Homo sapiens: one gene and its partner. The protein of the gene in region 1 interacts with the protein of each later gene in a pairwise test. Each region holds a gene or a part of one and is shown on either strand. Other genes may lie near its edges.

What was found. The genes of interacting proteins can lie anywhere in the genome.
Region 2: the proteins of ABCC2 (region 1) and AZIN1 interact in a two-hybrid assay, tested with the Homo sapiens proteins (one large-scale study listed by BioGRID and IntAct).

Annotation. Positions count from the first base shown.
Region 1 is NC_000010.11:99,831,140-99,834,639, forward strand, and holds part of ABCC2 (ATP-binding cassette sub-family C member 2), read left to right. Parts: intron 1-471; coding exon 472-691; intron 692-837; coding exon 838-992; intron 993-3,240; coding exon 3,241-3,396; intron 3,397-3,500. UniProt on the Homo sapiens protein: ATP-dependent transporter of the ATP-binding cassette (ABC) family that binds and hydrolyzes ATP to enable active transport of various substrates including many drugs, toxicants and endogenous compound across cell membranes.
Region 2 is NC_000008.11:102,829,664-102,833,163, reverse strand, and holds part of AZIN1 (antizyme inhibitor 1), read left to right. Parts: coding exon 1-108; intron 109-3,227; coding exon 3,228-3,343; intron 3,344-3,500.

The sequences.
Region 1 (3,500 bases):
ATAATTCAAATTAATGAAATTTAACCACAAATTTCAAGGTCGGCAGTAGAACCCCATCATCTGTTCCACTCTGATTTTTTGTTTGTGTGTTTATTTTAGATACAGGGTCTCACTATGTTGCCCAGGCTGGACTAAAACCTCAGGGCTCAAGAGATCCTCCCACACCAGCCTTCTGAGTAGCTGGGACTACAGGGGCATGCTATCATGTCTGGCTTGTCCCAATCTGTTTTTATATCTTCTCCTCTTAAATGCCTTTAGCTTTGATGATTATTTACCCTGCATTGTATTTCAGCATTGTTCTATTATCCTTCCTGGCACAGTGCAGAAATGGTGACCACAGACTACCAAATTTTGCTACCTGCTACCCATGCTCCCAGGGGACTCCACTTCTCCTTGTGGTTGGCATTCTAGGTGATTCCTTATCAAAAGCCATTAGGGAGTTCTACTAATATTGAGGTGGGGACTTTGCAGGTGAAGTTCTCCATCTACCTGGAGTACCTACAAGCAATAGGATTGTTTTCGATATTCTTCATCATCCTTGCGTTTGTGATGAATTCTGTGGCTTTTATTGGATCCAACCTCTGGCTCAGTGCTTGGACCAGTGACTCTAAAATCTTCAATAGCACCGACTATCCAGCATCTCAGAGGGACATGAGAGTTGGAGTCTACGGAGCTCTGGGATTAGCCCAAGGTATGTCTGATGGCTATGACATCTTACAGAATCTGTCTGGACCCTGTACTTTTCCTGGACTCAGGAATGCATTTGCCATTATGTCCTGGGCACAAGTCTTCAGGGATTCCTGTGCATGGTGCTGACAAAACTGCTTCCATCTCTAGGTATATTTGTGTTCATAGCACATTTCTGGAGTGCCTTTGGTTTCGTCCATGCATCAAATATCTTGCACAAGCAACTGCTGAACAATATCCTTCGAGCACCTATGAGATTTTTTGACACAACACCCACAGGCCGGATTGTGAACAGGTTTGCCGGCGTAAGTATCTCAAGAACTGTCAGGTGGTGTGTTTATATACTGAGGATCTTTCTGATAGGGAGGAATTATTATGTCCCCCTAGACAACACTGTTCAGTTCCAGTTCTTTTGTCACTCAACATGCAAGTGTTTCTTGAGTACCTGCTGTGAGCTCCCAAGAATCCTGGAGATTGAGGGATGAACATCTCTGACCCTTCAAGTAGCTCAGCATCTAGTGAAGAAGACAACCAAAGAAGTGAAGGATTATAATAGAATATAGTAAAACCAGTAACAGCAGTGTGTAGAAAGGTGGTCTGGGAGTACAAAGGAAAAAAAGGCACTAGCCCAGCCTGCGTGATAAAGGTGGGAAATGTCAGAAAAGGTGAAACTTAAGTCATAGAAGCAAGCCAGGGAGATGGCAAGGGTTGGGGGATGGCAGTAGAGCAGGGTGAGAAGGATTATTCTGCAGAGGAAGGAACATAAATAAAAGCACTGTCACAGCCTGGGACAGGAAATACAAGAGATAGTAGGATAACCCTTTGCTTGGCCTCTGCCTCCATTCCTGAAACTTCTATCTTGAATGCTTTAAGAATGAGTAAATTTGGTCTGGACTATGGAATAGAGCCATCAGTGATTTTAAAAAGTTCTCAAATATTGTTTCCATCTACCACAGATCCTGGACCCCTTGGCATTCACTCATTCATTCATTCAACAACCGTTATTGAGCACTTTCTATGAGCCAACTACTGTACTAGACACTGGGGCACTCAATGAATGTGAAGATCATAGATGTCTCTCTTCCATGGGCCAGACCCAACTCACTGATTTTTTAGTGTATCTGAGATGGGAATTCAGGAACAGAGGCAGAGATCAGGCAATTCTGAATGATAAGTAACTATCACCAGCACAGTTTTTAGCCCTGTGCTTATGGAGCAGCTCTGGACTCTTGTTTGTTGGTCTTGGGGCAGACATAGAAAGTATAGCTCACAGTCCACAGCCAGGTTCTGGGGACACAGTAACTGCTTCAAAAGTGGGCCATTAACTGGTCCCCCTGTGTCATCTTCCTCTGGGGCAGAAACAGTGGGCATGATGTCACTAGAGACAACTTCAATGGCCTTTCTGCTCTTTACTAGAACCTAAAAGAACACTCAATTTTGGGTGAGAAATTTCTCATAGTAATTTTGTAAAGATCACAGTTTTCCCCATGTTGTAATATATATAATCTTCTGGGAAAGAGAACACAGAGGTTTTCTGTGAGTTACTTAGGCAACAGTCATAGTTTGAAGACTGCTTTTGCATGAGAAAGGAAACTGTCATTAATTATATAGTATGTTTCGTTGGGGAGGTGGCTCAGACCTATTAAGGGGAGTTTGATCAAGGGGCCTCTGGGATCAATGGCTGAGTTAAGAGGAGATGGAGTGGAGGAAGGAAAGATGGAGACTCTGTGCCAGGTAAGGATCAAAAGTAATCTGCATAGAACTGATAACTGGTAGGGATTTCTTTTCTCTGCCAACTGTGGGTATAGTTATTTGCATTCTGATAGGACTTTGGGAAAGGTAGGTTAGACTCAGGAGTCATCCATGATTCAGAGCTTTCCTGGAAGACCATTATCCCTGATACAGTTTGAGAAATTCCAGAGATAACTTAAACTCACTTTGGTACTCACATATTACCAATCATAGAATCAATATAATCCCCACAAATTTAGGCAAGGGCAACCCAAAATATAAACCAAGCTTCTTGAGTGTTCTCCAAACCATCCATCCATTCATTCATTTTTCTTATTTGTTCATTTATTTCACATGACACGAAGGCAACATGGCAGTAAGACACATCTGTTCCCGCTGGGTTCCTTGGTTAGAACACTGTCCAGGCAGGCTCACATTCAACCCCAGCTCCCTTCCCCTTGGTCCTCTATGCTTAGCAGAGGAAGCAACTTCCTGAGTATTTTTAGTAGAGATGGGATTTCACCATGTTGGTCAGGCTGGTCTTGAACTCCCGATCTCAGGTGATCCACCCGCCTCGGCCTTGCAAAGTGCTGGGATTACAGGTGTGACCACCACGCCAGGCCTAAATGAAGAAATTATGGAAATGAAATTGGTTATTGGGGCAAGCAATGCAGCCTATTGCAAATGAACACAATGAAATGATTACATGAAGGAGTACTGGGAACACACAGAATCCAACAGATTCCTTGCTAGAACTAGGAAGATGTAAACTATCTTAGGAAGACCTCAGTGATGGTGTATCTCTCCTAATCGTTTTCCTAGGATATTTCCACAGTGGATGACACCCTGCCTCAGTCCTTGCGCAGCTGGATTACATGCTTCCTGGGGATAATCAGCACCCTTGTCATGATCTGCATGGCCACTCCTGTCTTCACCATCATCGTCATTCCTCTTGGCATTATTTATGTATCTGTTCAGGTAGGTTTGGAAATGGCTAAGTCATCCTTCCTTCCTCTCTATCTATAAAAGCCCAGCCTCTTTCCTGAGAATCTTCTCTCTGATTCATTGCTAGTCACTCACTC
Region 2 (3,500 bases), on another chromosome or scaffold:
TTAAGATAATTTCAGAACCCGGAAGCTACTATGTGTCTTCTGCATTTACACTCGCAGTTAATATCATAGCAAAGAAAGTTGTTGAAAATGATAAATTTCCCTCTGGAGGTAAGTTATAAAGTTTATAGTTTTATTTTTGTTGGTAGATAATTGCAGTTAGTCTGGAAATGAGCAGATGGTCATGAAGTTGTAGGTGGTTTTCAGCTTTTAAAAATCTTAAAACTGGCCGGGCGTGGTGGCTCACGCCTATAATCCCAGCACTTTGGGAGGCAGAGCCAGGTGGATCACAAGGTCAGGAGTTCGAGACCAGCCTGGCCAATATGGTGGAAACCCCATCTCTACTAAAAATATAAAACTTAGCTGGTCATGGTGGCGCACACCTGTAATCCCGGCTACTCGGGAGGCTGAGGCACAAAAATCGCTTGAATCCGGGAGGCAGAGGTTGCAGTGAGCCAAGATTGTGCCACTGGACTCCAGCCTGGGTGACAAGAGTGAGACTCCGTCTCAAAAAAAAAAAAAATCTTAAAGCCAAGGTCCCATTCCGTAAGACTTCCAAATCCAACTTTCTTGGTACTGATGTTTAGATACGTGTGTTTTAGATAAATGTCTAGCAGATGATTAATTCTCATCCATTATTCAGAACTACTTTTATTGTGATCTTTTCTGTTCTCCTTACCTCACATGGGTCAGAGGGAGGCTCTGTTTTCACACTTTCTCACATAAGGGCCACAAAGAGTCCCTGTAATCTAACTCAAGTCAAACCAACAAAAAGGCACTAGACAGTACCATCTTGTTGGCTAATATTGTAGGAAATACTGTTTTACATTAAGAAGACTTTTTTTTTTGGCTGTGGACTAATCCACAGCCCATAGGAAAGTTGTCCATTTCCCCAATATTGTCTTTTTTTTACAGCTTTGTTTTTCCTTGCTTAGAATCCAGTCCAGGACCACATTGAATTCGTCATTTCTCCTTGAATCTAGATAAAGTTTCTCAGCTCATTACTTTGTATTTTTTAACTTTGACATTTTTGAAGAGTAGAAATTTCATAGCTGATCCTTAGTTTGGGTTTGTTGGATGATTCCTCATGATTAATTTTTTAGGCTATGCATTTGGGGCATGAAGTCCACTAAAGTGTTACTCTGTTCTTCTCACTTCATCATGTTAGGAGGCACATGATAGTGGCCAATTCTAATATTGATGATGCTAGGTGTTTTTTCTTGTTGTTTTGTCGCCCAGGCTGGAGTACAGTGGCTCCATCAGGGCTCATTGCAGTCTCCACCTCCCGGCTTAAGCAGTCCTCCTACCTTCAACCTCTTGCATAGCTGGGACTACAGGCATATGCCACCATGCCTGGCTAGGTTTTTTTCTATTTTTATTTTGTAGAGGGTTTCGTCGTGTTTCTCAGGCTGGTCTCAAACTCCTGAGCTCAAGTGATCCACCTGCCTCAGCCTCCCAAAGTGCTGGGATTACAAACTTGAGTCAATACACCTGGCCTTATGATTTTTTTTTTTTTTTTTTTTTTGAGACTGTTTTGCTCTTGTTGCCCAAGCTGGAATGCAGTGGCATGATCTCAGCTCACTGCAACCTCCACCTCCCAGGTTCAAGCAATTCTCCTGCCTCAGCCTCCCAAGTAGCTGGGATTACAGGTGCGTGCCACCACACCCGGCTAGATTTTTTTTTTTTTTTTTAATTTAAATGCTAGTTTTGAGCACTTGTTTAAGGTTGTGTCAGGCAGGTTTCTTTCCATTGTGAAGTGGCAAGTTTAAATTAGAGACTCTGTAAACTACCTGTTTTTAACCAGATTTTCACCCCATTAGTTTTAGCATCTATTGTTGAATTTCTAACTTCATTATTGTTTATATTAGTTGGCCTTTACTTAAAGAATATCTTTTCCTTCCCTCCTGTTTATGAGTTTAGACTCATAGATCTTTATTCAATAGGTTTATATAATCTGTTACTCTTATTTTTCCCTTGACATGTCTCCATTATTCTCAGAGCAATTCGTTATTTTTTGGTATATCAAGATGTTCCAGGCTCATTTTAACCTTTTAAATGAGCCTCAGTCCCGTAATCAGTTGTTTCTCCAGGGAGCCTTGGTTTGTTTTCGTGGAGAGTGATATTTTAAAAACCTGAAAATTAGTATTGGTTGTGCTAAGAGTAGAGTAGCTGTGAGTAGAATGGGCGTTTTCAAAGGTTTCAAAGTGAGGTGAGAGGATCTATTGATCCCTGAAGCTCGAGGCTGCGGTGACCTGTGATCACGCTACTGCACTGTAGCCTGAGTAACAGTGAGGCCCTGTCTCTACACACACACACAGATTCCCACTGGCAGTGTATACATGTGAGCTCTGGTTGCTCCTCCTGCTCTCTGATGTTTTGTAGTGTCAGTCTTTAAGTTGATCCAGTCAGTAGGTTGGTGGTAATGGTAGTCCATTGTGGTTTTAATTTGCATTTACCTGATGACTAACGATGTAGAGCACTGTTTTCTTTTTCTTTTTCTTTTCTTTTTTTTTTTTGTTTTTGAGACAGGGTTTTTGCTCTGTTATCCAGGCTGGAATGAGTGGCACAATCTCAACTTTTATTTTTAATTCTACATTCAAACACATATTTAACTCCTTGTGCATATATTGCCTTCCCCTTGCTGATTTGAAAAGAAACTAAAAAGTGTTTTTCCTTGCTGCTTCATTTCCTCTTTTTTTGAAACAGCAACTATCAGAAAGTCTTCTAGAATCTTAATACTTTTTTCTTTTTTTTTTTTTTTTTTTGAGACAGGGTCTCATTCTGTCACCCAGGCTGGAGTGCAGTAGCACAGCCTTGGCTCACTGTCTCACTGTCTTACTGTAACCTCCGCCTCCCGGATTCAAGGGATTCTAGTGCCTCAGCCTCCCAAGTAGCTGTGATTACAGGCATGCACCACCACACCTGGCTAATTTTTGTATTTTTAGTAGAGATGGAGTTTTGCCATGTTGTTCAGGCTGATCTTGAACTCCTGACCTCAAGTGATCCTCCCACCTCAGCCTCACAAAGTGCTAGGATTACAGGTATGAGCCACCGCATCCAGCCCTAGAGCACTCTTTTCTTGTGCTCATTGGTTATCTTCCTTTGTGAAATGCGTGCTCTATGTGTCTTTTTAAGTTTAAATAGTTTGAGAAATGTGAAAATTACATTAATTTGTTTCATATGAGCCATTTTATTAAAAATTCATTTTCCCCTTTCCTGTTTTATTCCAGTAGAAAAAACCGGAAGTGATGAACCAGCCTTCATGTATTATATGAATGATGGTGTTTATGGTTCTTTTGCAAGTAAACTGTCTGAGGACTTAAATACCATTCCAGAGGTTCACAAGGCAAGTTTTATCAGAAATATCAAAACCTATTTGGCATTTTATAAGCTGAGCTGTTATTTTTAAGATGCTTCCCAGTTTTTTGAAAAACATCTTAGAATGGGGAAAAATGTCCTTTTTGAGGATTTGCGTTCTTCTGGTGGAGTCCCTTTTTTAGTTT